Homo sapiens: one gene and its partner. The protein of the gene in region 1 purifies or fractionates together with the protein of each later gene. This does not show direct contact. Each region holds a gene or a part of one and is shown in the gene's direction. Other genes may lie near its edges.

What was found.
Region 2: the proteins of VPS54 (region 1) and EIPR1 purify together in Homo sapiens (affinity purification with mass spectrometry; 4 studies listed by BioGRID and IntAct, with this or other methods). This does not show direct contact.

Annotation. Positions count from the first base shown.
Region 1 is NC_000002.12:63,963,929-63,967,428, reverse strand, and holds part of VPS54 (vacuolar protein sorting-associated protein 54), read left to right. Parts: intron 1-1,462; coding exon 1,463-1,594; intron 1,595-3,500. UniProt on the Homo sapiens protein: Acts as a component of the GARP complex that is involved in retrograde transport from early and late endosomes to the trans-Golgi network (TGN).
Region 2 is NC_000002.12:3,371,319-3,374,818, reverse strand, and holds part of EIPR1 (EARP and GARP complex-interacting protein 1), read left to right. Parts: intron 1-3,500. UniProt on the Homo sapiens protein: Acts as a component of endosomal retrieval machinery that is involved in protein transport from early endosomes to either recycling endosomes or the trans-Golgi network.

The DNA of each region.
Region 1 (3,500 bases):
TATAATATTTTATCACATCCCTTGGATTGAAGCTTCATGAGATTGGGGTCTCTTTAATAAATTATCTTTGTTTCTCCCTCAGTGCCTAGCATCAGAAGTAGTCAGTAAATATTTATTGAATTAATCAATACTTTTAGTTATAATACCAAAGCAGGGATTAGAAAATTTACTCATGTCTCTAGTTAGATTTTTTTCCTACCATATTCATTCTAATTTTTGTATATAGGTAAAATAAATCAGTAAATAAAATATAGCATATAAATAAATACATAAATTGATTAAACCATGTTTTAGGCCCTATGCTAGGTGTTAGAGGTACAAAAATAAGCTATAAATTTAACCCTGCAAGAACATATGGTCTCCAGAGGGAGATATGCATACTAAATAAATAATTTCTATAAAGTATGAGGTAAATAATTAAGTATGCATGATATATTTGTGTTCAGAGATGGGAGTCATTATGTCATGCACAACGACACATTTGCCCTTTTGATTGGGTCATGTTCTTCAGGAAGATGTACAAGAAAAGGCGTTCTAGGCCAGAAGTATGTATGTAAAGATATGCATACTTTATGTATTAATACACTCATTGTAAAAAGAATAAGAGTATGGAAGAGAATTGAATATTGCTAGAGTGTAATGGGTAAATAGTGGGAGTGACAAGATACAAAGAGGTAAGTGGGTCCAGAAAAACAATGAAGGGTTTTGGATGCCATTCTAAATAGTTTGGTCTGTGGGTCATGGGAATCTATTGAGAGTTTTAAACAGGGAAGTTAATACAGTTATACTTGACATTGTAGAGGAGTATCTCTAACAGTAGTATAGGGGATAGATTAGGGAAGGATATCAGTAAATAGCTATTGAAGAGCTGAACTACTGAATGCTGTGGAGATACAGGAAAGCAGAGATTCAAGGTATATTTACAAAATATAACGGGTAGGCCTTATTGCTTAGCTGGTCGTGATATGTAAGGGAAGAGTAGTCTATTCATAAAATTGAATTTGTTTTGGTTTTAATATTTATTGTATGCTTAATCTAAACTAATTTTAAAACAATTTTGAGCAGGAGAAAATAGAAATATAGGTTAGAGAAATTGATATTTGGCATTTTAAAAAACTATCAGTGGGAAATAATGTGGAAATTTTAGGATGAGTATTATATCTGCCTCTGGTATGTACCTGTAGGACTGCATGAGTGAGTATGATCATGTAGTAATAGAATGACCATCTCCATTGGTAAAGGCAAAAAACATTTTGTATCTTTTATGAGTATTTTAAGCTTGGTGAGAAATTTACACATTTTTCTTATAGATATTTGTGTAAAGAACTCAACTGTTATCACTTGCTTTTGCTATTCATACTCAAGATCCACGTTAATTTTGTTTAATGATCATGATGTTAGAAGAGATAATGGGTATAAAGAAAATACTTATCTAATTGAGGGAAATGCATTTTTTTAATAGATTTTTATGAAACCAGATTTTGCCTTGGATGATTCCTTAACTTTTAATTCAGTTTTACCATGGTCTCATTTTAATACTGCTGGTGGAAAAGGAAATCGTGATGCAGCTTCCTCAAAGTTGCTTCAAGAAAAGGTAATTTCTTTTTGACTTTTTCCATGTAGGAAACTATTCTAGTTAAGCGGTACTGTTTGCTTGGGTTCAGATTTAGTTATTTAGTAAGCTGTACTTTTAAATTCATTTTTGTTCTTACTGATAACTATAAGCCTCCCAATCTTAACTGATAAACTAACAGCATTTTGGTTCAATGGAACACAAGTTGTGCAGATGAACAAGGAAAAACTTACTATTTGAGTGCTTCTTACCTGAAAGAGCAGTTGATGGAATTTTAATTGAAAGGCTATATTAGCTAACACAATAAATTGCTTTGCATTTGTCCCAGATATTTTATTTACATACTGGCTAATTTTATTTATTTTTATTTTTATTTTTTTGAGACGGAGTCTCGCTCTGTTGCCCAGGCTGGAGTGCAGTGGCACGATCTCCACTCACTGCAACCTCCACCTCCTGGGTTCAAGCAATTCTCCTTCCTCATCCTCCCAAGTAGCTGGGACTACAGGTGCGTGCCACCATGCTTGGCTAATTTTTTGTATTTTTGGTAGAGATGGGGTTTCACCATGTTGGCCAGGCTGGTCTCGAACTCCTGACCTCATGATCCGCCCACCTTGGCCTCCCAAAGTGCTGAGATTACGGATGTGAGCCACCATGCCCAGCCCCACATTGGCTAATTTTATAAGAATGATTTAAAGCACAGAAAACCAATATTTTCCGAGGTACTGTTTTTCATTTTCACCTAGGGATGATTATTTTGAAACAAAAATATCTTAAAGAATACAATATTCCTATTGTTTTTGTAGCTTTGCAAAGCCTAGTCTTTTACATGTTACTAGTCAGCAGTTCTTTACGTTTTACAATGTCATAGTCCAGAAGTCAGCACCTTGAAAGTCATTTAATATTTAGATCTTTAAATATAATTTACTTATCAAGAGTCTTCTAAAGACATTTGATCTCTGTTCTTTCTTAGCATTCAGTTTAGAGCTCGTCTAAAACTGAAGGTAGTTCTTAAAATGAGAAGTAGTGATTTTGTTTTACTTTAGTGATATCCCCTGGCAATCTGAAAGCTTGTCTCAGGAAGACATCAATAATATCAGGTTCAGTCCTCATCAGGAACTGAAGAAAAGACTAGCTTGGGGAGGAGAGAAGAAGAAATGTGGGGAAGGAATCATGAGTATTCCTTTTCTCACAATTGAAAACGAAAATGAGCTTTTTCCTTTGGCAACATTGTCACCTATAAAAAGGTTTTTCCATGCATAAGAACAAATTGATAAATCTGACGAAAACCATGGGTTTAGAGACACAGGCTTGCTCATGACACAGGCTTTCATATTCTAAGTATATGCCCTGAGAGAATAATACCTTAAAAAGAGAAAAACAGCAAAAGCCAGTAAAAGTCTCATCAATGTATACAGGTACTTTTAATACAGATAATTTAAAAATTATTTCCTTTATAGCATTTTAATAGGAAGTAAACTATAAAAATGTTATGCCTTGAAAAGAGTAAATCAATGGATTATTGAAAATTCAAAAAATCTTTGAGACTCAAATGCTTTTCTTATGCTGAATGTTTAAAGTGACTAAAATAATGGAAATTTTTTTTATTTGTAAATTGCAGAATCAGATTTGCTATATTTACATTCTGACTCCTTTTCGTTCTGCTCTGTTCTTAGAATAGGAATAGAAGACAGGATTCCAAGAGAGCACTTTGAAACTCCTTTTATGATGGACAACAGCTGGTTTATCATGTTCGCTTTTAAGAGCAAGGATGCTATAACTAGAATTAAAGAAATTTGTATTCTATTGTACTGTGCAAAGTGCTGGTCTGCAGTAAAATAAGGAGTTTGCACTGGAATGCAAATCACTGCACTGCTTACTTCATTAAGAAAGTCTGAAAAAAATACAGTGTGCTTAATGATGTAGTTGA
Region 2 (3,500 bases), about 61 Mb from region 1:
CACTGACTTCCACAATGGTTGAACTAGTTTACAGTCCCACCAACAGTGTAAAAGTGTTCCTATTTCTCCACATCCTCTCCAGCACCTGTTGTTTCCTGACTTTTTAATGATTGCCATTCTAACTGGTGTGAGATGGTATCTCATTGTGGTTTTGATTTGCATTTCTCTGATGGCCAGTGATGATGAGCATTTTTTCATGTGTCTTTTGGCTGCATAAATGTCTTCTTTTGAGAAGTGTCTGCTCATATCCTTTGCCCACTTTTTGATGGGGTTTTTTGTTTTTTTCTTGTAAATTTGTTTGAGTTCATTGTAGATTCTGGATATTAGCCCTTTGTCAGATGAGCAGGTTGTGAAAATTTTCTCCCATTTTGTAGGTTGCCTGTTCACTCTGTTGGTAGTTTCTTTTGCTGTACAGAAGCTCTTTAGTTTAATGAGATCCCATTTGTCAATTTTGGCTTTTGTTGGCATTGCTTTTGGTGTTTTAGACATGAAGTCCTTGCCCATGCCTATGTCCTGAATGGTAATGCCTAGGTTTTCTTCTAGGGTTCTTATGGTTTTAGGTCTAACGTTTAAGTCTTTATTCCATCTTGAATTAATTTTTGTATAAGGTGTAAGGAAGGGATCCAGTTTCAGCTTTCTACATATGGCTAGCCAGTTTTCCCAGCACCATTTATTAAATAGGGAATCCTTTCCCCATTGCTTGTTTTTGTCAGGTTTGTCAAAGATCAGATAGTTGTAGATATGCGGCATTATTTCTGAGGGCTCTGTTCTGTTCCATTGATCTGTATCTCTGTTTTGGTACCAGTAACATGCTGTTTTGGTTACTGTAGCCTTGTAGTATAGTTTGAAGTCAGGTAGCGTGATGCCTCCAGCTTTGTTCTTTTGGCTTAGGATTGACTTGGCGATGAGGGCTCTTTTTTGGTTCCATATGAACTTTAAAGTAGTTTTTTCTAATTCTGTGAAGAAAGTCATTGGTAGCTTGATGGGGATGGCATTGAATCTATAAATTACCTTGGGCAGTATGGCCATTTTCACGATATTGATTCTTCCTACCCATGAGCATGGAATGTTCTTCCATTTGTTTGTATTCTCTTCTATTTCATTGAGCAGTGGTTTGTAGTTCTCCTTGAAGAGGTCCTTCATGTGCCTTGCAAGTTGGATTCCTAGGTATTTTATTCTCTTTGAAGCAATTGTGAATGGGAGTTCACTTATGATTTGGCTCTCTGTTTGTCTGTTATTGGTGTATAAGAATGCTTGTGATTTTTGTACATTGATTTTGTATCCTGAGACTTTGCTGAAGTTGCTTATCAGCTTAAGGAGATTTTGGGCTGAGACAATGGGGTTTTCTAGATATACAATCATGTCGTCTGCAAACAGGGACAATTTGACTTCCTCTTTTCCTAATCGAATAGCCTTTATTTCCTTCTGCCTAATTGCCCTGGCCAGAACTTCCAACACTATGTTGAATAGGAGTGGTGAGAGAGGGCATCCCTGTCTTGTGCCAGTTTTCAAAGGGAATGCTTCCAGTTTTTGCCCATTCAGTATGATATTGGCTGTGGGTTTGTCATAGATAGCTCTTATTATTTTGAGATACTTCCCATCAATACCTAATTTATTGAGAGTTTTTAGCATGAAGCGTTGTTGAATTTTGTCAAAGGCCTTTTCTGCATCTATTGAGATAATCATATGGTTTTTGTCTTTGGTTCTGTTTATATGCTGGATTACATTTATTGATTTGCGTAGATTGAACCAGCCTTGTATCCCAGGGATGAAGCCCGCTTGATCATGGTGGATAAGCTTTTTGATGTGCTGCTGGATTCAGTTTGCCAGTATTTTATTGAGGATTTTTGCATCAATGTTCATCAAGGATATTGGTCTAAAATTCTCTTTTTTGGTTGTGTCTCTGCCCGGCTTTGGTATCAGGATGATGCTGGCCTAATAAAATGAGTTAGGGAGGATTCCCTCTTTTTCTATTGATTGGAATAGTTTCAGAAGGAATGGTACCAGTTCCTCCTTATACCTCTGGTAGAATTCGGCTGTGAATCCATCTGGTCCTGGACTCTTTTTGGTTGGTAAGCTATTGATTATTGCCACAATTTCAGATCCTATTATTGGTCTATTCAGAGATTCAACTTCTTCCTGGTTTAGTCTTGGGAGAGTGTATGTGTTGAGGAATTTATCCATTTCTTCTAGATTTTCTAGTTTATTTGCGTAGAGGTGTTGGTAGTATTCTCTGATGGTAGTTTGTATTTCTGTGGGATTGGTGGTGATATCCCCTTCGTCATTTTTTATTGCGTCTATTTGATTCTTCTCTTTTTTTCTTTATTAGTCTTGCTAGCGGTCTATCAATTTTGTTGATCCTTTCAAAAAACCAGCTCCTGGATTCATTAATTTTTTGAAGGGTTTTTTGTGTCTCTATTTCCTTCAGTTCTGCTCTGATTTTAGTTATTTCTTGCCTTCTGCTAGCTTTTGAATGTGTTTGCTCTTGCTTTTCTAGTTCTTTTAATTGTGATGTTAGGTGTCAATTTTGGATCTTTCCTGCTTTCTCTTGTGGGCATTTAGTGCTATAAATTTCCCTCTACACACTGCTTTGAATGTGTCCCAGAGATTCTGGTATGTTGTGTCTTTGTTCTCATTGGTTTCAAAGAACATCTTTATTTCTGCCTTCATTTCATTATGTACCCAGTAGTCATTCAGGAGCAGGTTGTTCAGTTTCCATGTAGTTGAGCGGTTTTGAATGAGTTTCTTAATCCTGAGTTCTAGTTTGATTGCACTGTTGTCTGAGAGATAGTTTGTTATAATTTCTGTTCTTTTACATTTGCTGAGGAGAGCTTTACTTCCAACTATGTGGTCAATTTTGGAATAGGTGTGGCGTGGTGCTGAAAAAAATGTATATTCTGTTGATTTGGGGTGGGGAGTTCTGTAGATATCTATTAGGTCCGCTTGGTGCAGAGCTGAGTTCAATTCCTGGGTATCCTTTTTAACTTTCTGTGTCGTTGATCTGTCTAATGTTGACAGTGGGGTGTTAAAGTCTCCCATTATTATTGTGTGGGAGTCTAAGTCTCTTTGTAGGTCACTCAGGACTTACTTTATGAATCTGGGTGCTCCTGTATTGGGTGCATATATATTTAGGATAGTTAGCTCTTGTTGTTGAATTGATCCCTTTACCCTTAAGTAATGGGCTTCTTTGTCTCTTTTGATCTTTGTTGGTTTAAAGTGTGTTTTATCAGAGACTAGGATTGCAACCCCTGCCTTTTTTTGTTTTCCATTTGCTTGGTAGATCTTCCTCCATCCTTTTATTTTGAGCCTATGTGTGTCTCTGCACGTGAGATGGGCTTCCTGAATACAGCACACTGATGGGTCTTGACTCTTTATCCAATTTGCCAGTCTGTGTCTTTTAATTGGAGCATTTAGTGCATTTACATTTAAGGTTAATATTATGTGTGAATTTGATCCTGTCATGCTGTTAGCTGGTTATTTTGCTTGTTAGTTGATGCAGT